Regions from separate parts of the Homo sapiens genome. Here region 1 is reported to be linked to region 2. Evidence: microRNA targets listed by miRTarBase, many of them from high-throughput screens and not tested one by one. Region 2 holds a microRNA gene; the other region holds the end of a gene's coding sequence.
Evidence for each region. The annotated mature microRNA hsa-miR-4701-5p reads UUGGCCACCACACCUACCCCUU and lies in region 2 at 2,621-2,642, shown strand. An mRNA with a match to its seed (bases 2 to 7 or 8) in the 3' UTR can be bound and repressed. Matches are read on the target gene's strand: a 7mer-m8 pairs with bases 2 to 8, a 7mer-A1 pairs with bases 2 to 7 and ends in A, and an 8mer does both.

Region 1: miRTarBase lists KLB as a target of hsa-miR-4701-5p. Seed matches in the 3' UTR shown: 7mer-A1 at 2,905-2,911 and 7mer-A1 at 2,305-2,311.

Annotation. Positions count from the first base shown.
Region 1 is chr4:39,447,988-39,452,043 of GRCh38, reverse strand. It overlaps KLB (klotho beta), which reads right to left. Exons shown (of 5, transcript NM_175737.4): 5 at 511-3,743. The coding sequence ends at 3,358. Among named protein-coding and RNA genes, the nearest start is that of RPL9, 8.9 kb to the left of the region's middle.
Region 2 is chr12:48,770,589-48,774,655 of GRCh38, reverse strand. MIR4701 (microRNA 4701) reads left to right here and starts at 2,619; the gene lies at 2,619-2,681. It overlaps ADCY6 (adenylate cyclase 6), which reads left to right. Exons shown (of 22, transcript NM_015270.5): 14 at 138-254; 15 at 558-716; 16 at 1,009-1,187; 17 at 2,113-2,148; 18 at 2,232-2,361; 19 at 2,683-2,946; 20 at 3,686-3,890. It also overlaps a transcript of SPMIP11 not described here.

The DNA.
Region 1 (4,056 bases), not on the chromosome of region 2:
GAAAACTTAATTATTGTCTTCTGTGTCTACTATGGATAAGCACTTGTGCACTATTTTTGCAATTTTTAGATGTAGGTGTCCACATATTTTTGAGACGGGGTCTCTGTCACCCAGGTTGGAGTGCAGTGGCGTGATCTTGGTTCACTGCAACCTCTGTCTCCCAGGCTCAAGCAGTCCTCCCACCTCAGCCTTCTGTGTAGCTGGGACCACAAATACGTGCCACCATGCCTGGCTAGTTTTTTGTAGAGAGGGTTTTGCCACGTTGCCCAAGCTGGTCTCAAACTCCTGGAATCAAGCAATCCGCCCACCTTGGCCTCCCGAAGTGCTGGGGTTACAGGTGTGAGCCACCACACCTGAGCCACATTTTTTGAGAAAATATACCCAGAAGTAACATACCAAGTTGGTGCACAACTAGGCAGAAAGGGATTCAGGGGAGGCAGTCTTGGGGCAGAGCCCATTTACAATGCCAAACCCATTCACATTCAACAGTTCTTAAAATTGACCAGGTTGTTAGTTGAATACAAGTGGTCAGCATGAACCAGTTTATTTGGAATAAATTACATTGAAAATTAAACATGTAGTCACACTGTACTGGCCTCATTTTCCAGAGGCTCTTTAAATATAGTTGTGATTCTCCAGGTTGTTACATTGAATATACGATAAACACGTTAGATTTTTCACAACACATCTCAGAAAAGCTTAAACTCCAAAGATCTTACCTGTTTGCTCCTTTCAAGAGTTATCAGTTTCTGGTTGACCTTTGATGGTTTTTAAGGAGTTTATGATAAACCTGAATATTTAGTATGATAGAGCATGAGCCAGATTAAATGCTTAACCTAATTTGCTGTACATATTTGCCAGTGGTTAAAAAATTTAAGGGTTTTTGGATTCTTGTGCGATGATGGCTTAAAAACTAGTAAAATAATGCCCAAGTGGCAGAGAAGGAGGACTCTCAGTACTGGGTTAGGAATTTTATTACTTAGGGGAGTTTATGGTAAACCAGCAAGTTAGAAAAGGGGGGCATGCTTTAAGCATAAGCTCTTAATGTGAAAGAGACAGTGAAGGTTAATTTGTGAACTGTGAGTACGAGATACTTTAAACAAAGTGAGAAAGAGAAAGCAAAACCTGAAAGATAAATTCCAGGTTTTTGTTATTCCTGTGGCTAACCTTTTTTTTTTTTTTCCCAAGCCCTTGATGTTAAAGAGAGGTTAATGAGTTGCCCAGTTGACATTAAAGAATTTTCCCTGGAGTTCTTGGGTCAGGGTGAATCAATGTGGCACAAAGGGGAAAAAACCCAGCCAAGTGATTGTTTTAAGTGACTTACTGTTTCTACATAGTTAGAGTAATAAAAACAGAATTGACTAGTTGTATGCGTGACCTTAGGTACATAGTTCTCAGAGGGAGATGTTAATACTAAAAAAATTCCTTGAAAATCATACCTCAAAACTGCCAACTTTGGGGTAGTGGGTGCAGCTGGGGCAAGGAGACTAGAGAAGAGTAAAGCAGAATTTTACTGTTCCCATTTGCCAGGCCAAATAGCAAATTGATTTCTCATCATATTTGCATTTACTCAAATTGACTAATTGTATTTTTACAGTATTTTGGAAACTTGTTCATTAGCAGTTAGATACTGAATTTAGCTTCAGACATAGGTGGACCTAGAATATAATCAAAACTGCCTTAATTTACTAAGGCTTTGTAACAGAAGAACGTCTCTTGTGACTGTTAAGGTCTAAATTGCTGGAGTGAGCAGACAAGGACAAATTAATGTATGCAGTGGGTGTTAAATGTTGACCTAAAGAAAGAATAGGTATAAATAGGTGCATATTTAAGTTTTCTTCCTCAGATGTTTAAAATACACTGAACAAGTCTCAAGAACAGAGTTCATTTCCCAAAGTGTCAAATTATCCAAGTCAGATCTAGTAATTAACCCTAGCCCAAAAGGGTGCTATATAAAACAATTTAAACTCATTCAGTATTCTGAATTGTTGCTTTACTTACAGTATAGCAACTTCTATTCACAGAGTTGAGTCTAGCTTTCCTTCATCCTGTGATCTTTCCATGAGATGAGGTTTTGGAAATTACTTTTATTTTTATTTTTATTATTTTTTTTTATTTTGAGAGACAGTCTTGCCCTGTCCCCCAGGCTGGAGTGCAATGGCACGATCTTGGCTCATTGCAACCTCTGCCTCTCGGGTTCAAGCGATTCTCCTGCCTCGGCCTCCTGAGTAGCTGGGATTACAGGTGCCCACCACCATGCCCGGCTAACTTTTGTATTTTTAGTAGAGATGGGGTTTTGCCATGTTGGCCAGGCTAGTCTCGAACTCCTAACCTCAGGTGATCCACCTGCCTTGGCCTCCCAAAGTGCTGGGATTACAGGCGGTGCCACCGTGCCTGGCCGGAAATTACATTATTTTAAAAAATCAGATCTAGTAAAAGATCACAAATTAGATATTCTATAGGTGATTTTTTGTTGTTAGAAAAATGAAGGGCTTGATCCTCTTTAAGAGTCTGTGTTGTAACTGGCTTAGACAAGCACTACTTACCCTATTGTGTTTTCTTTCCATTTTAGAACCACCCTGACCTAAAGGAGAAGGCACCTTATTAGAAGTGACAGAATATATATTATCTATCACTGACTACCCAGTTTAAAGAAGGGTGTTAAATCTCTGCTGTAGAGTCTAACAAAACAAAGTTTTGCTTTTGCTTTTTTTTTTTTTTTTGGACACAGTCTTGCTGTTGTCGCCTAGGCTGGAGTGCAGTGGCGCAATTTTGGCCTACTGTAACCTGTTTCCTGGGTTCAAACTTCTGCCTCAGCCTCCCAAGTAGCTGGGATTACAGGTGCCACTGTCACCACGCCTGGCTAATTTTTTGTATTTTTAGTAGAGACATGGTTTCACCATGTTGGCCAGGCTGGTCTCGAACTCCTCACCTCAGGTGATCTCCCCGCCTCGGCCTCCCAAAGTGCTGAGATTACAGGTGTGAGCCACAGCGTCCAGCCCCAGAGTTTTACTTCTTAAAAATAATTTATTGTACCACAAGTAGCTATTGGTAGAGATGAAAGCTAAAGCAGAATGATGGAATACAGTTGATGAAACTTTAAGAAGCAATGTAGCATGTAATCCTCATAGCTTACTGTCAGGATGAAGCCTTTATGTTTACATCCAAGAACTGAGTTCACTGATGTCAACACCTAAGGGAATGTTCTTTGAACCACACAGCAGAGACAATTGTCATCACCTTGGTTACAGCTGTATCTCAGATTGTCTTTCTATAATACAGGTATATCTCCTGTAAGTTACCAGCATATGGAACTGGGATGAATTTTTAAACTGTCTATCATGCAGACAGATCAGTTTAGCTAACAACTCTCTTGCCTTTCTTTAATGGTATGTGTTGTAAGTTTTTTGCTTTCCAAAACTTTCTTCTCTTCTGCCTTTGAAAAATGGCAATTGATAAGAGTAGAACCAGGGTGGAGAAGAAGCAACAACCCAGGAATATCAGTGGTTTCTTCTGCACAAGGAATAAGCAGACAGTGCACTCTGTATTTTCTTGGGTCTGACTGCATCTAGAACTACTGTTCTCAAAAGGGAAGCCCCTGCTGCTGATCACTTTGTTGTAAAATTGTATTGAGGATTTAGCTTTAAAATCAGATGTGAAGAATCCAAATCTGGGTTTAGATTTCTCTTCAGCCAGTTTGAATGCATAATAGCCTTTGATTCTGACTTTATCAATCAGGTATGCTGAAAAAGATAAGAAATTAACATTAATCACAAATGGACTATGAAGTATCTTTGAGGAAGAATTTAGTTTTCATTGAAACAAGCTAAAATTATGCCCATAATAAAGGTAGTGATTTTTATTAGAGGGTTTTTTTTGACATTTATTCTTTTATGATCTATGTAAAGGAGAAGGTGAAAATATGTATAATTTAAGTCTGAAAAATTTGTAGTGAAACTTGATCCATAAATAATCCAAAAACTCTTGGAGGAAAAAGCAAATTTAAGGAGCAGAGCAATGAAGGTTGTCACTTTTGTTTAAAGGGTCACAAGCAGA
Region 2 (4,067 bases):
CAGGCTGGACTCCAGACAGGGAGGAGGTCACATGGGGAGAGGGAGAAGGCCATGCCTCTTCCACTGGGCCCCATCCCTGGTTGCCATTCCTCCTTGGCTGATACAACCTTCAACTCTTGGTCTCTTGATGCCTCTAGCTGTTCCCTAAGGCCCTGCAACGTCTGTCCCGCAGCATTGTCCGCTCACGGGCACATAGCACCGCAGTTGGCATCTTTTCCGTCCTGCTTGTGTTTACTTCTGCCATTGCCAACATGGTAAGGGTCCAGTGGGAATTCTCCCACCTCTGCTCTGTGCCAAGCACTGTCCTGGACACTGGGAGTACAGCGGAGAAAAGGACATATTTTCTGCCCTCAGGGAGCCCCCTCCCAGAATAGGGGAAGGTTAACTCCGGTTCTCCTTCCTTGTTCTCCCAACCTCTTGTCATCCCTGAGTGAGTACTAAGGCCCATGGGGTATAAGGTACCTGGGCATAGCCCAGGTTAGGGTACATGGCTTCACCAGGTACCTTGCAACCCTTTCCCTCCTTGGTTACCCTGATATACCCCTCCACTTTTGCAGTTCACCTGTAACCACACCCCCATACGGAGCTGTGCAGCCCGGATGCTGAATTTAACACCTGCTGACATCACTGCCTGCCACCTGCAGCAGCTCAATTACTCTCTGGGCCTGGATGCTCCCCTGTGTGAGGGCACCATGCCCACCTGCAGCTTTCCTGAGGTGTTCGAGCAGTGCTCAGGCGGTGGGGGGGCTGTCCTGGCACAGACATTGGCCCTTCTGTGCCAGGCCTGGTGATGGGCGCTGGGGACCCAGGAACTCACCAGAGTCTCCCACACTAGGAGCAACCAGGGGCCCTGGTGTGTTGTAGGGGCTGGGCATGGAAGGTGGAGGATATGGGGGTTTGAGGGGTGTGGTGGGAAGGTTAGGTCAGGCAGGAGAGTGCAGGGCTCTCCCTGCCCAAGGGTGCTGTGGCCTCTGCCTTCACCCAACGCTGCCTCTGCCACCCCCGCAGTACTTCATCGGGAACATGCTGCTGAGTCTCTTGGCCAGCTCTGTCTTCCTGCACATCAGCAGCATCGGGAAGTTGGCCATGATCTTTGTCTTGGGGCTCATCTATTTGGTGCTGCTTCTGCTGGGTCCCCCAGCCACCATCTTTGACAACTATGACCTACTGCTTGGCGTCCATGGCTTGTGAGTTTATTCTCAGGTCCTTTAATACCCCAGGAGCTTCCCTCACCTTTCTAGGTCACTGTGAGCCTCTCTGGTGCCCATGCCCCTTGTGCCTTGGAATGCCACAACACCCCTGTGGGGGAAAGGGAGGAGATGGAGGAGCTCCCAGCATGTGACCCCAAATAGTTACCCCCAAGGAAACCCTAGTCCTGGGAAATCCTTGTGTCTTTAGGCTAGACATTAAAAAAAAAAATTCCCTCTTACATTTGCATGGTGCTTTCACATCCACCATCTTAACCACCTATAGGACATACAGCTGCTTGGTGGCAGGGCTCTGGTTAGGAACCAAAGCTTCTGATTCCTGCTTGGGGGCTTTGCCTGGGACACCACACTGGCTTTTCCTCTGCAAAACCCCATTCCTTTGATATGTGGCCATAGCTTGTTGTAGTAGAAAAAGCCTCTGGTCTCTGCTGGGTTTGAATCCCTGCTCTGCTGCTCATTAGCTGTGTGACTTTAGACAGGTGAGTTAGCTTCTCTGAGCCTCAATTTCTTCATCTGTAAAATGGCAATGTCACCTAAATCACAGGGTAGTTGTAAAGATTATAGTAACTAACATTTATGGAAGGCTGACTATATGGCAGGCACTGTGCTAAGCCTTTTACATACATTATTTAGATCTGATCCCTGTTGTACTGATGAGGAAGGAGGCTTAGAGAGTTAAGCGACTTGTCTCAGGTCACATAGCTGGTAAGTAGAGGAGTCTCTAAGAGCAGAGGTTTTCTTAACCTCTACTCTTAATGAGTTAATTAATGTAAGTAAAAGCCCTGGCCCAATGCCTGACTTACAGTATGTGCTCAGTAAATGCAGTCTCTTGTCTCCCCTTCCATGTGCCCACCCAGCAATCCAGGAAGCACTGATGACTTTGTCTCTTCTATCTTCTTACCAGGGCTTCTTCCAATGAGACCTTTGATGGGCTGGACTGGTAAGTGAGGGCTCCGAGGCAGCAAAGGGTAGAGCCATTAGATGCCTCCTTCAGACACCAAGCATGTCTCTGCTTATCCTTAGTCCAGCTGCAGGGAGGGTGGCCCTCAAATATATGACCCCTGTGATTCTGCTGGTGTTTGCGCTGGCGCTGTATCTGCATGCTCAGCAGGTGGAGTCGACTGCCCGCCTAGACTTCCTCTGGAAACTACAGGTGACTGTGTGGGCCTTTGGGGGAAGAGGAGGAACCTAGGGGCGGAGCCTGGGCCAGGCCAGAAATGTATCTTGTGCTAGCTGGCTAAGGCTCAGGCCACACCTAGGCCCACCCTGGTTCCATTCCTTCTCTGTGCCCATCCCTTACTCCCTGCCCCATCCTCTACCTGCCCCCTTTACCCCTTTGCCTGTTCTTTAGGCCTCATCTGTCTGGGCCTTTCTTTCTCTATGTGATTCCCTCTTATCCGCACTTCCAAGCCTTGGCCACCACACCTACCCCTTGTGAATGTCGGGCAATGGGTGATGGGTGTGGTGTCCACAGGCAACAGGGGAGAAGGAGGAGATGGAGGAGCTACAGGCATACAACCGGAGGCTGCTGCATAACATTCTGCCCAAGGACGTGGCGGCCCACTTCCTGGCCCGGGAGCGCCGCAATGATGAACTCTACTATCAGTCGTGTGAGTGTGTGGCTGTTATGTTTGCCTCCATTGCCAACTTCTCTGAGTTCTATGTGGAGCTGGAGGCAAACAATGAGGGTGTCGAGTGCCTGCGGCTGCTCAACGAGATCATCGCTGACTTTGATGAGGTACTTTTCCAGTTGGCTGGTGGTGGCAGAGAGTGGGGGGTACTTGGAGACCAGGGATTGGAATGGGTGAGTGGAACTGGGAAGAGAGAGAGAGATTTGATGGGACCCAGAGTCATCAGGGGTAAGGGTATGCACAGTGGAGGCAGAGGCAAGAACCCATGAAGGTGTCAGAGGCAGCAAGGGGGTCAGCCCTAGTGGGGCAGGGTCATCACTGTTGGGGAGCAGGGGAGGACTTGATCTGTAGGGGGATAGGATAGGTACCAGGTGGATGTCACTGAAGAAGAAGGCAATAGTCTGTGGACAGAACCTCATGAGACCAACCAAGCAAGATGGTCCTCTGAATAGAGAAAATTGAAGCAAAATGTGAGGTAGTGTCCTGAACATCCAGATCAGGAATGGGCTGTTCACTGTTCTGGAGGGAAGTCACTTGCTCACTCTGGGACTCAGTATCCCAAAAGGTAAGGATTGGAGAAATTGCTTAATATTGCACTTGTGGGTCTGTGTTCTGTGAGTGAGCTACTGGAGGGACCTTCTGAAGCTGTATGCCCAAGTCCTGCCTGGAGTCCTAGGCTGCCTGTTTTCCCAGCTCCTCAGTCTTACACTGATAGCAGCAGCTGGAAGGGGGCTCTTGAGACAGGGAAGTGGGGAAGGCAGCCAAGGCGTGGCAAGAAATGAGTGTTGGGGCAGGGCTGGGTCTGGGGTCTTTGCCTTGACAGCCAGGTCTCCTTGTGTTGTTCAGATTATCAGCGAGGAGCGGTTCCGGCAGCTGGAAAAGATCAAGACGATTGGTAGCACCTACATGGCTGCCTCAGGGCTGAACGCCAGCACCTACGATCAGGTGGGCCGCTCCCACATCACTGCCCTGGCTGACTACGCCATGCGGCTCATGGAGCAGATGAAGCACATCAATGAGCACTCCTTCAACAATTTCCAGATGAAGATTGGTAAGAGGGCTTTGTTGCTTGGCGGGTTTTCCCAGGACTTTTTCCAGGTGAAGCTGGGATTATAGGCTGGGGATGGGATCACAGATTTCCCATCAGGGCTCCTGTGGGGTTTTCTTCCCTCTGACCTCCTATATCAAGTCTGATATTAAGAACAGAGATCATTAGGCACTGTCCTAT